Linked DNA regions of Homo sapiens: region 2 is linked to region 1. A link means that fine-mapping ties the variant in region 1 to the expression of a gene that starts in the linked region. Tissue or cell type: non-classical monocytes. Region 1 holds a variant in brackets; the other region holds the start of a gene. All regions are shown on one strand. Distances are between the middles of the regions.

What was found. PIP is the estimated chance that this variant, and not a neighbour inherited with it, causes the effect.
Region 2: it holds the start of ATP13A4, and the variant in region 1 is fine-mapped to the expression of ATP13A4 in non-classical monocytes (Schmiedel 2018, PIP 0.95).

The regions. Positions count from the first base shown.
Region 1 is chr3:193,489,667-193,494,820 of GRCh38, forward strand. ATP13A4 (ATPase 13A4) reads right to left here. Exons shown (of 30, transcript NM_032279.4): 4 at 3,424-3,494; 5 at 3,251-3,331; 6 at 1,663-1,732; 7 at 64-198. Among named protein-coding and RNA genes, the nearest start is that of ATP13A4-AS1, 61 kb to the right of the region's middle. The variant C/G (reference allele first, on the strand shown) is at 2,229.
Region 2 is chr3:193,552,645-193,557,798 of GRCh38, forward strand. ATP13A4 (ATPase 13A4) reads right to left here and starts at 2,251. Exons shown (of 30, transcript NM_032279.4): 1 at 2,096-2,251. The coding sequence starts at 2,155. ATP13A4-AS1 (ATP13A4 antisense RNA 1) reads left to right here and starts at 569. Exons shown (of 2, transcript NR_121666.1): 1 at 569-643; 2 at 2,126-2,940.

The DNA.
Region 1 (5,154 bases):
AAATTTTTAATAAAGTCATTATCCTTCCCTTTATGAAACCATAGAATTAATAGAAAAACTCACCTCTCTGAGATCATATACTGTCAAAGATATGGAAATTATGGACATGATTATGATGGCAAAAGCATATTCCTTATAGTCTTCACTAAACCACAAACAGACACTGAAGAGTTGAAATATATAAAATGGATTTAGAACCTGTTGGCAGACATAAAAACAGGAAGACAAGGGAGAGTTTTAGGCTTCACTCTGCTCTTCATTTACTTGTTTTCATAATCATCTTCATGACATACATCATCCCACACAATATTCTTATTATATTTATTCGGCAATTGACACGTGCCAGACACCGCTCTAAGCAACTTTACTTGAATTTTCTCATTGAATTCCCACAGTTACCTTATTAACCAGAAGTTGTTACTTATCTCCTTTGTAATGATAAAGAAACTGAAACTTAGAGCTTGAGAAATACGTCCAAAGTCATGCGACTATGATTGCCACAGACCCAAGACTTAAACACAGGCAATCTGACCCCAGAGCACTTACTTTTAATCACTGCCTCACTTTATAATTTACAAAGTAGTGTCTCATGTATTGACATGTCGGCCATCACAATAGTTATTTAAGGAGTAGATGTTGTCACCTCCTGTCTACATTTACTGGCCTTCAGAAAGGTGAAGTATTAGTTCAGGTTTATAAAGTTAAAATACTTTCTAGTCTCTTCTTCTCTATGATATAACACCTGCCATATTTGAAGTCATTAAGGAACTTGATTAATGGGTGAGTTGAAGACTGCATGTTCTCATAAGTAGAGAGCTGTGCTGAAAGCAGTAAGCTGTAATAGAGCATCTAGAACACTGTGCGAGAGAGTAGCTGTGAACTTCAACAGCTTTAATTCTGCTTTGGTCAAAAACATGCTGTGCCTTTACTTAAATTCCCCCTAGCTGGTTTCCCTCTCTCTAAAACAGGAATGGCAAACCTTTCTTCTGGTTAGAAAGGCAGCACACAGAAACATTCCCTATTGGTTTGTTTTACTTTCTTTCATGCTTGACGGCTTGTTGGAAATATTTTGAAAGTACCTGAAGTTTAGTAAGCTTGTTTTAAGGCAAGGAGGAGTCGAGAGAGAGCACAGGGAAGCCAGAGGACAGCTAGAGGGCTACGGTTTGATAATAATCGCTGTAAAGTGAAACAATGATGAGCTCAGTGATGGGGTCCAAAAGGAAAATTTCATCTTATACCTTGAGATCAGCAGTACTGAGAAGGCTGAATAAATGGTTTTTTTCTTCCTACAATTTTAGGCACCAAGGAAATTGTATCTGTTACCTAACAAAAGGATTAGCTTAAAAAAAATTGAGTTTCATGAAGTTAAAACAAGTTAAGCAGCATAGTATTAAAAAAGAAAAGAAACATTATATTCATCCAGCCATTAAATGGTAAATAAGTACAATGAGTTTCACACCCTATATTGCATAAGGCAATGTGCAAAAGAACCACTTGAAGAAAAAGAGTAAGCAAGAGATATGAGGATAATATGCTTGGCATACTTTCAAAATATACTCTATGTGAAGTTACTTATTAACAATTAGCACTCCTGATTATTTCACTAGAGCCAAACTTCCTTATTTTCTGTCCAACACCAAGAGAAAATGCTGGAGAAATTACCTCCTTGATGAGCAGTTTCCAAATTGGTGTAACTTCAACATCGATAGTATTAGGCCCACATATTAACCTCCTATAGAAAGAAATCACAGATCACTCTGTCACAAATAATAAAATTAAAACTGACTCCTCACCTATTCAGAAAAAGGTCTATTCCATGTTCACTTTCTCACTTGTGAGACCAACATAAGTCTCCCTTGTTAAATACCATTCTGATCCTTCTCAAAATAATGGGAGGTGAGGGTTCCCAGTTGCAAAAACGATAAATATGACCATATTGCTTCTAGAAGCATACTCTTTCCAAGGTCTAAATATTTTCCTAAATGGTATTTTGGGTATTTAATATTAAATATTGTCTCATTCAAGTACTTTCAGGATTGGCATGTTCCCAACTCTGTCTCTCCTCAATTCCGGTTTTATTACTGTAAGACAGTGAGGTAGTTAAGAGAAATTACTTTTATTGATAAGGAAATGCTGTTTCTACTTTCCTACCCCTATTTAGAAGTTCTGGAAAACTTCAGAATGTATTTTAATGTGAGTGGAAAGGCTCTGTGATCTCAAAAATAGCT[C/G]TACACACATAATTATTCAGCTTTTTGATTCAGTGTCTCTAAAACCCAGAGATGTGTTTCTTTGATTATGCAGAGGAAAGACATTTTATGAGTTATGTTACTGTTGAAAACACTAACCGCTTTCTCTGTGTCTTCCACCTCGATGCTCAGATTAAATAGCTTGGTCAAATGTATGAGAGCAGTGCTTCTCAAACTTTAATGTTTATATAGATCATGTGGTGATATTGTTAAAATGAAGATTCTGATTCAATGGGATGAAAAGTGGTCTGAGATCCTTCATTTCTAACAAGCTCCCAGGTGATGCTGATTCTGCTAGGCTGTACATCTCTTCAAAGTACTAGAAATGGGGAAGGGGGAAGCATGTGAATCATAGAAACTTAGAACAGCAAGGCCTTTAAAGAGTCCTTCTACCCATGTCTATGATTGGGAAACAAAGGTCCAGAGAGGAAAAGGTATTTGTTCAAAGCCCACAGACTCTTGACATACCAGTGCCCTCCCTAAACCTCTCTCCTCTGCCTAATAACTGATTTGGAAATGTGGAGCTACACATCTTGCATGGTGTTCTGCTGCTGCTCCATGGTTATTATTTAACTGCGTTATCATGGTCTAATATGTATTTCTTGATTTTAACCTAAAATGGCTCAACTTTATATTATAATAACCTTGAGAAACTTTGTATGGAGTAGAAAGAGCATTACATCTGCAGTCAGGAGTGTGGGACTCAGTTCTTCCGCTACTAATTCCCATCTGTGTGACCTCGTTCCGGCCATGAAACCCCTCTGAGCCTCAGATTTCTCATTTGTTGTGTGGAAATGGTGATAATGTCTGTTCTACCTGCCCCATAAGGTTGCTGTGAAGATGATGTAATATAATGTATGTGAAAGATTTAATTTAATAATACTAAATAGAGCATTATAATATTTTCTGATATTAATCCATTAAGATAACTATTTACTAGCTGTCTATTTGGCTAACTGATAATAATCCTTTTGAGCTAGTATAGGCAATAATATGCATGGTACCTAATCTCCTGTTCTTCTCTTGTCAAGCCTGATCCAAATTTTTGATGTATCTTGGCAGAACTAAGCCAGTCTTCCAAAGAACTAAAATAATAATAATGAAAAGAACATATTTAGCAATAATATTTTTGAGATAACATTTTTCTTCTTTGGCTGTACTTGCTAAAACAACTTACCCAATTTTCTGGAACTGTCCTTCTAAGTAGTTCCAAACATATCTTATTTTCTGCACTTTGATGCATCTCACCTGCAAAAGAAAAGTACTAAGAAAACCTCTAGTTTGAGGATCAGAGAATAAACAGCAACCCAGTGGCTAAAGAAGCATTTGTTTGAAAAGCAAAGATAAAACTCTAACATACTTATTTAAGATTTTATCCTTTTCTAATTTACCCTTTGCTTTTCTACCATACAAATGGTATTCTTTATTAGAAGTCATCATTCAATCAACATGTATCATGGACCTACTATATAGAAAAATATATATGAATAAAACTTAGTCTCTGCATTCTACTACTTTATAAACTAAGGAGGAAAAAATTCCAAAAACAAGGCATACAGTCCAATATGTACCATGCCAAAAAATAAAAACATAATAACATAAAAAATACGGTCTTGAAATGCTGTAGACGTAAAGAGAGAGAAGATGATGGAAGGCATCATGATGGAGATGATGTATGAGTTACAGTGTCGAAGGATTGGAAGACTTATACTCAGATGAGAAAATAGAAAGTATTTTAAAGAGATTGTTCACAAGTTAGTTTGGGGGAAGAAGGCAAGTGAGCACGCCTGTTTGTAGAATGAAGAATGAAGCTAGAAAGGTAAACTGAAACCAAAGTATTGATACAGGAGTTAAGAAGAAATTACTTGGGCAGATAATGAGGCTACATAAGTCCTCGGTAAGGTTTTCTTTTTAATGAAAAGCAGTGCCCAGTCATTTTCCTTTCTAACATAAAAAGAGCCAACTATATGCTACCTCCAAAGAATCATTTAACTAGTAATAACATACAGAGACTGAAAATGAAAGAATGGAAGAAGACATTCCATGAAAATGGAAACCAGAAAAGAGTAGAAATAGTTATATCAGATAAGATACACTTTAAATGAAAACTATAAAAAGAGACAAAAAAGATCATTGCATAATGACAAAGGAGTCAACTCAGTAAGAGATTAACACTCATGTGTATGCACCCAACATTGGAGCACCTAAATATATAAAGCAAATATTAATAAAACCAAAGGGAGAAATGGACTGAAATACAATGATAGTAAAAAATTTCAACACCTCACTCACAGCAAAGAACAAATCATTCAGACAGAAAATTAACGAAGAAATATCAAATCTAAACTACACTCTAGACCAAATGGACCTAATAGACACTTACAGAACATTCCATTCAACAGCTGCAGAATATACATTCTTCTCAACTGCTCATGGAACAGTCTCCAGAATAGATTATACATTAGGTCACAAAAAAGTCTTAACAAATTTTAAAATCATATCAAGTATTTTTTTCTGACTATAATAGTATAAAAGTAGAAATCACTAAGGAAGCAAGAAAAACTTTGGAAACTCTGCAAATACATACAAATTAAACAACATGCTCCTGAACAACCAATTGGTCAACAAAGAAATTAAAAGAGACATTCAAAATTTCTTGAGACAAGTGAAAATGAAAACACAGCTTACCAAAAACCTATGGGATACAGAAAAAGCAGTTCTAAGAGGTCAATGTATAGCAGTAAACACCTATATACAAAAAAGAATGATCTCAAATACACAATCTAACATTGCACCTCAGGGAAAATGAGAACAAACTAAATCCAAAATTAATAGAAAGAAGGAAATAATAAAGATCAGAACACAGGTAAATAAAACGAGACAACAAAAGGTCAAAAAACCCAAAGAG
Region 2 (5,154 bases), 63 kb after region 1:
GTGTTCTGTTAAGAGTGGAATGTTCTCCGGAAGAACTGGAAAAGGTATCAGTGGGCTATGTTCAGGTCCAGAGACAAAAGAGCTGTCAACTTAAACTAACCTGTGCGGTGCCTCAGCTCCTGGACTTACTGGTTGATGCAACCTTAGGGAAAGCCTGTGTGCATCAATTTCCTCATCTTTAAAGTTAGAATCACAGCATCTACCTCATAGGGTTGTGAGGAAAACTAAATTAGCTAGTGGCCAAGAAAATGCTGTGTATACTAAAAATCACTACAAAATATGTAGACTATATATATAGCTTGATAATTTTTAAAGTTTACTGCTCTGGGCAAGGGATGGAGGAGTGAGTTAAAAAGGAACACAGTGTCAGACACAGCAACAGGCAGGTGGCCAGGTTTCTGTAGGCAGAAGAGGATGGAGAGCTCAGGAGTGCATACTAATTGCTGCACCTCTGCTGAGACTACTGGCCAAATGGCTGCCTACCAGAAAACACAGTGTCCCTTTCCATATTAAAGGGCCTCTCCTAACTGGGCTTTCAGCTGCATACAAAACTACGTGGAGTTCTCCATGCATCTGATGGTGCCATTATGAAGATGAACTGTTAACTAAATTGCTTTGGTGGAATATGTATGCTAGGGAAGAGGTAACAGTTTCCCTACAACCATGAATGTCTTCTGGAAAATAAATGATTCTTATTGAGACTTGAAAGACAAATTGTCTGAGAGCAGAAAGGGGTTTACTGGAAAAGAGTGAGTGTATTTCTAAATGAGAGAGAAAAAAAATGTTTCAGAGGAAGGAGCCCCTGCCTTCTGGTGAAGAGTATTCAAGATGAAGATAAACTTTTCAACTTAATATCGAGAGTAATGAGATATTCACTTCCTAAAGAAAACTCTTTAAAGAAACAAAGATGATATCCAATGTGGGCTAGCAAGCCATTTCTGGTGACATTTGTGGAGGGGCTGAAGGCAATTCATTTGGCAGTCAAATCTGAATGAAGTAAAGGATATGGTTAAGAAAGGCACCTGAATTAATGTACATTTTACTTCTTTATAATTTTTTCAGCTTTGATAGCAGAAGGGATCTACTCTTGAAAGTCCAAAAAATGTTGTTGCTATAGGAACAGGTAAGCAGATTAGACTTGAAAGACCAGTTTAGGAACAAAGAATGTAATAGTCAGGGCTAAAGCAATTAACCAAGAAAACATTTTAAGTAAATATCTTTCAGGTTTGTTATTTACATATTAATTCCAGGAAGATTAAATGCTATTATGGAATGAGAGCGTCACATTTTAACATTTTAATTACATCATTACTGGCATAAAAGACTATGCTTACACAATTAGCAGAAAGATCTTATTAAACAGAAGTACATATTTCTAACTCTCTCTTGATTATATTGTAATTGAGAAATACAGTTTTAAATTCATCCTGAGCATGAAAGTCATCTTTGATTTTCCTATAGTTCTCAAGATAGAAGCACATCTAAAATCAAAGAGATACTGAACTACCGAAAGTTTTCTGTAACCAATCTCTATAATGAGGAAGCCACAAAAGTAAAATTCTAGAAGAAAACAGAAATGTGTGTAGGCTGATAATTGTTAATATTGCATGTCTTCCCTGTCCAACAGACTCGGTGAACAAGACATTTGAGAAGAGAAGGTCAAAGACCCAGCTGCACTTCTGCTTCACTGCTGAACTTCTGCTTCTTCCTATCAGGGAATACACTGCTCCTCACATTAGGGATTTCCTAAAATTGTTAGGTGTTTTGAACAGAACTGGCTATACCAATGAGGCTCAAACAAGAATCATAAAGTGCATGGTGCTTCTCTCCCTCTCTGTTTTCTTTAAAAAGAAAACATTCTTGACAAGATGAATACAATATTTTCATTCTAGCAAATTTCTGCTGTCAGAGGTTATATTTACAGGATAGAGAGATTTCTCAAACATGACCTTTTCTCGTGTAATACCAGAGTGAAATTTTAGAAAAGTCTGTGTGTGTGTGATGCGTGCGTGTGTGTGTGTGTGTGTGTGTGTGTGTGTGTGTCTCGCAGGCTGAGAAGTGGGATGGGAAGAAGGGAATGTGGCTAGAATCTTACCATCTCATTCTCTTCTCCTTCATTGAGCAGAGCGTGCTGGCCCTTCTCAAAGTGTCCCATGAAAAAGTTATTCCACACCTCCTCCCTGACCTTGTCGTGCAGACGCTTCCAGGATGAACTCCAACTCGCCGAGCCACCGCAGCTCCTCAGCTGACTAAAAGAGTTAATGATCCTCCAGGTTAAAACTCCTCCTTGAGCACACACCTTCTCTCAACAAATGACAATACTTGGCAAACTGAACTCCTCCCACGAGTCGCCCTCTGCTAGGAGGAATTGCTGGCTGCTCCCTGCTTATTGCATTCTCTCAGAGCAGCTGTCTCAAAGGAGGCTGCTCCCATGCCGATCTTTTTGTGCCCAACTTACAGGGAAAGAACTCATTGCCTGCCCAGTGCCTGCCAGCCTCAGACTTCTGACTGCAAATCCAACAGGACAATACAGAGTTGGCAGGACCCTTCTCAGGAGTGAGGAGCGGGTGCAAGAACTCCCAGGTCACTGCTTTATTCAGAGGACCTAAGGAATTGGGTTGAGCGGAAGCGCACAGAGCTGCAGATTTTCTTTGATGAATGAAAGCTTCAATCCACAGGTTTCTAATAGTACTCTCATTCATTTTGCTTACAAAAGGTACAGATTATCACTAATCCTCTTCAAAAGGTATTTGTAATCACATTTCCTTGTATATGCAAAAAAAATTCTATTTAAAGTGTATGTGAAATTAAGTTTACTTTTTTGAAACACATGTAGAAAAAGAACAAAGGTATCATCAAACTAGTCTATGTAGTCTCCTTTCACTAAAATATTGATGGTTCAACACTTAAGGAAGTCTAGAAATAAAATATTCAAATGACTATATGGCCAGACTCTTTTTTAATTTGTTTACACATTTATTCAATAAACAGTGCCTGAGCACAGGGACTACCTAAAAAAGTTAAGTCATATTTGCTACCCTCGTGTTGATGTAAGGATTCAAACATCCAAACAAATATGATAGAAAGTGGATTGTTATTATAAGAGATGGAACAGAAGTCTAAGAAAACTGTCAGAAGTCCCAATGTGGTGTAGAGAAACACACCCCTACCCTAGCTCTGGCAAAATACCTGTATTCCAGCTGCTTGTCTGCACTGGCCTTGCTGTGTGATCATTTAACTATAGGAACCGGCTCTTCTCATCTGGTACCGCCCGACAGGACTTTTGAGAGAATGGAATGAGATCATTGTGAAAGTACATTGTACAGCACTGATCAAGTGCTGTTAGGATTATTAAACTAAATGTGCATTTGAACAGTAGGTGTTAGGACATAGTGGCTAAGGGCATATACACTAAATTTGGAAGGCCTGAGTTCAAATTTGGACTGTACTAGGTGGTCGTTGTGCTACCTTGGGATATAACAAGTTATACAAACTCCATTCTCCTCTATTTCCTCACATGTAACATAAAGATGATGATAATAGAACCTACGTCCTAAAACAGACTTTTAAGAAAGAGTGCCTGGGAAATAATAGGTGTTCCACAAAAGATAGTTATTTTTACCTTCACCATGTCCACTGTCTGTCCCTCAAGCTACATTGGCAATGATATCTCCAACCTGACCCAAATAACCCTAATGTGACCAAGATCAATGTGTGCATGTGTGTGTGTGTATATGTTGTATGTGTAAAACCTTGAGCAAATAGTGAAGTATAGGATAAACATAAAAAGTAAGCTAAGTAAACCCATTGTAATAGTAATTACAAAATATATATGTACGTGTGTGTGTATGTGTGTGTGTGTGTGTATATATATATGTAGTTCTCTTGGTTTCAAAAATTTGCTAGCACAATTTAACCAAATAAATGAAAATAAAATTAACATTTTATCACAAGGTCAAAATATAAGGAGTAAAGGGTTTATGGGGGGGGTAATAAAAATGTTCTAGAACTACTGATGGCTTCAAAAATTTGTGAACATACTAAACCTCACTGAACTCTATACTTTAAAAGGGTGAATTTTATGAAATGTGAATTATATCTCAATGAAGAGATATAACAAATTTAAAAATCATACCTCAATAAAAAATTATACCTCAAAAAAACCTAACTGAACATTTAACAGCCTTACTAGGCAGTAATTATATATTTAGTACAGAAAAAAATATAAAACAAGCATATTCCAAATTTCATCTCAACTGATGGAGGTTGAGGAGTGTTAGTATGTGACGTGGTGAAACTATATCAGTGCTCCTGGGCAGGTGAGAAAGAAGTAATTCATTCTCCTGTTTATCACTGGCAATATTTGCAGTTTCCTTTTGGCTGGGTTCCTGAATGCACTTGGCAACTCTTGCACCGTTGTGGGATTGAGATGAGTGTGTAACTGATTAACAGCTAGAGGAGAAACTGTACACAAACTTACCCCATCAAATAAATCAGGTCATGCTGCTACAATATTTAAGCTAAACTTGAACAGGAAAATATGTAAGTCCTTAAGAACATTAAAAGCTTTTATAAAAATCAGATGTCCATGGAAAATTATTTTCCACAAACCTGGTTCAATAGAGCTGAGGACTCCAGTAGTGAGAGAGTTTCCTCAGGTTCCTTGGGAGTTCTATTGGTAAAACATCTAGATTTTATCGATGGCAACACTGCTTATGGACAGCACTCACCCTCATTTAGTGATTTTGGTCTACAAACATAACCATAACCAGAAACAGGGCTAGGTTGTGTGGGAAAGCAAAGAGAACATTTACAGAACACTTCCACATATGAGGCACAATTCTAAACAGTTTACACTCACTGTTGCACACAATCCTGACAAAAGCCTCTGTGGTTGATACTATTCTGGTCATTCTTATTTGACAGACAAGGAAACACAGGTGCAGACATTAAGTAATTTGCCTACATTCAAACCATTAGTAAGTGACAGAATGAGTATTCGGACCTAGGCAATGCAGCTCTCCCAATCCGTGATCCTAGTTACTGGACTAATACCTCTTCTACACATTTATTTGGCACATCCAAAGTGCTCTGCAAAGAGGTTTGCATTTATATGACCAGAAAAGCCTCTTTGTGAAGGAAGCATTTTGAGAA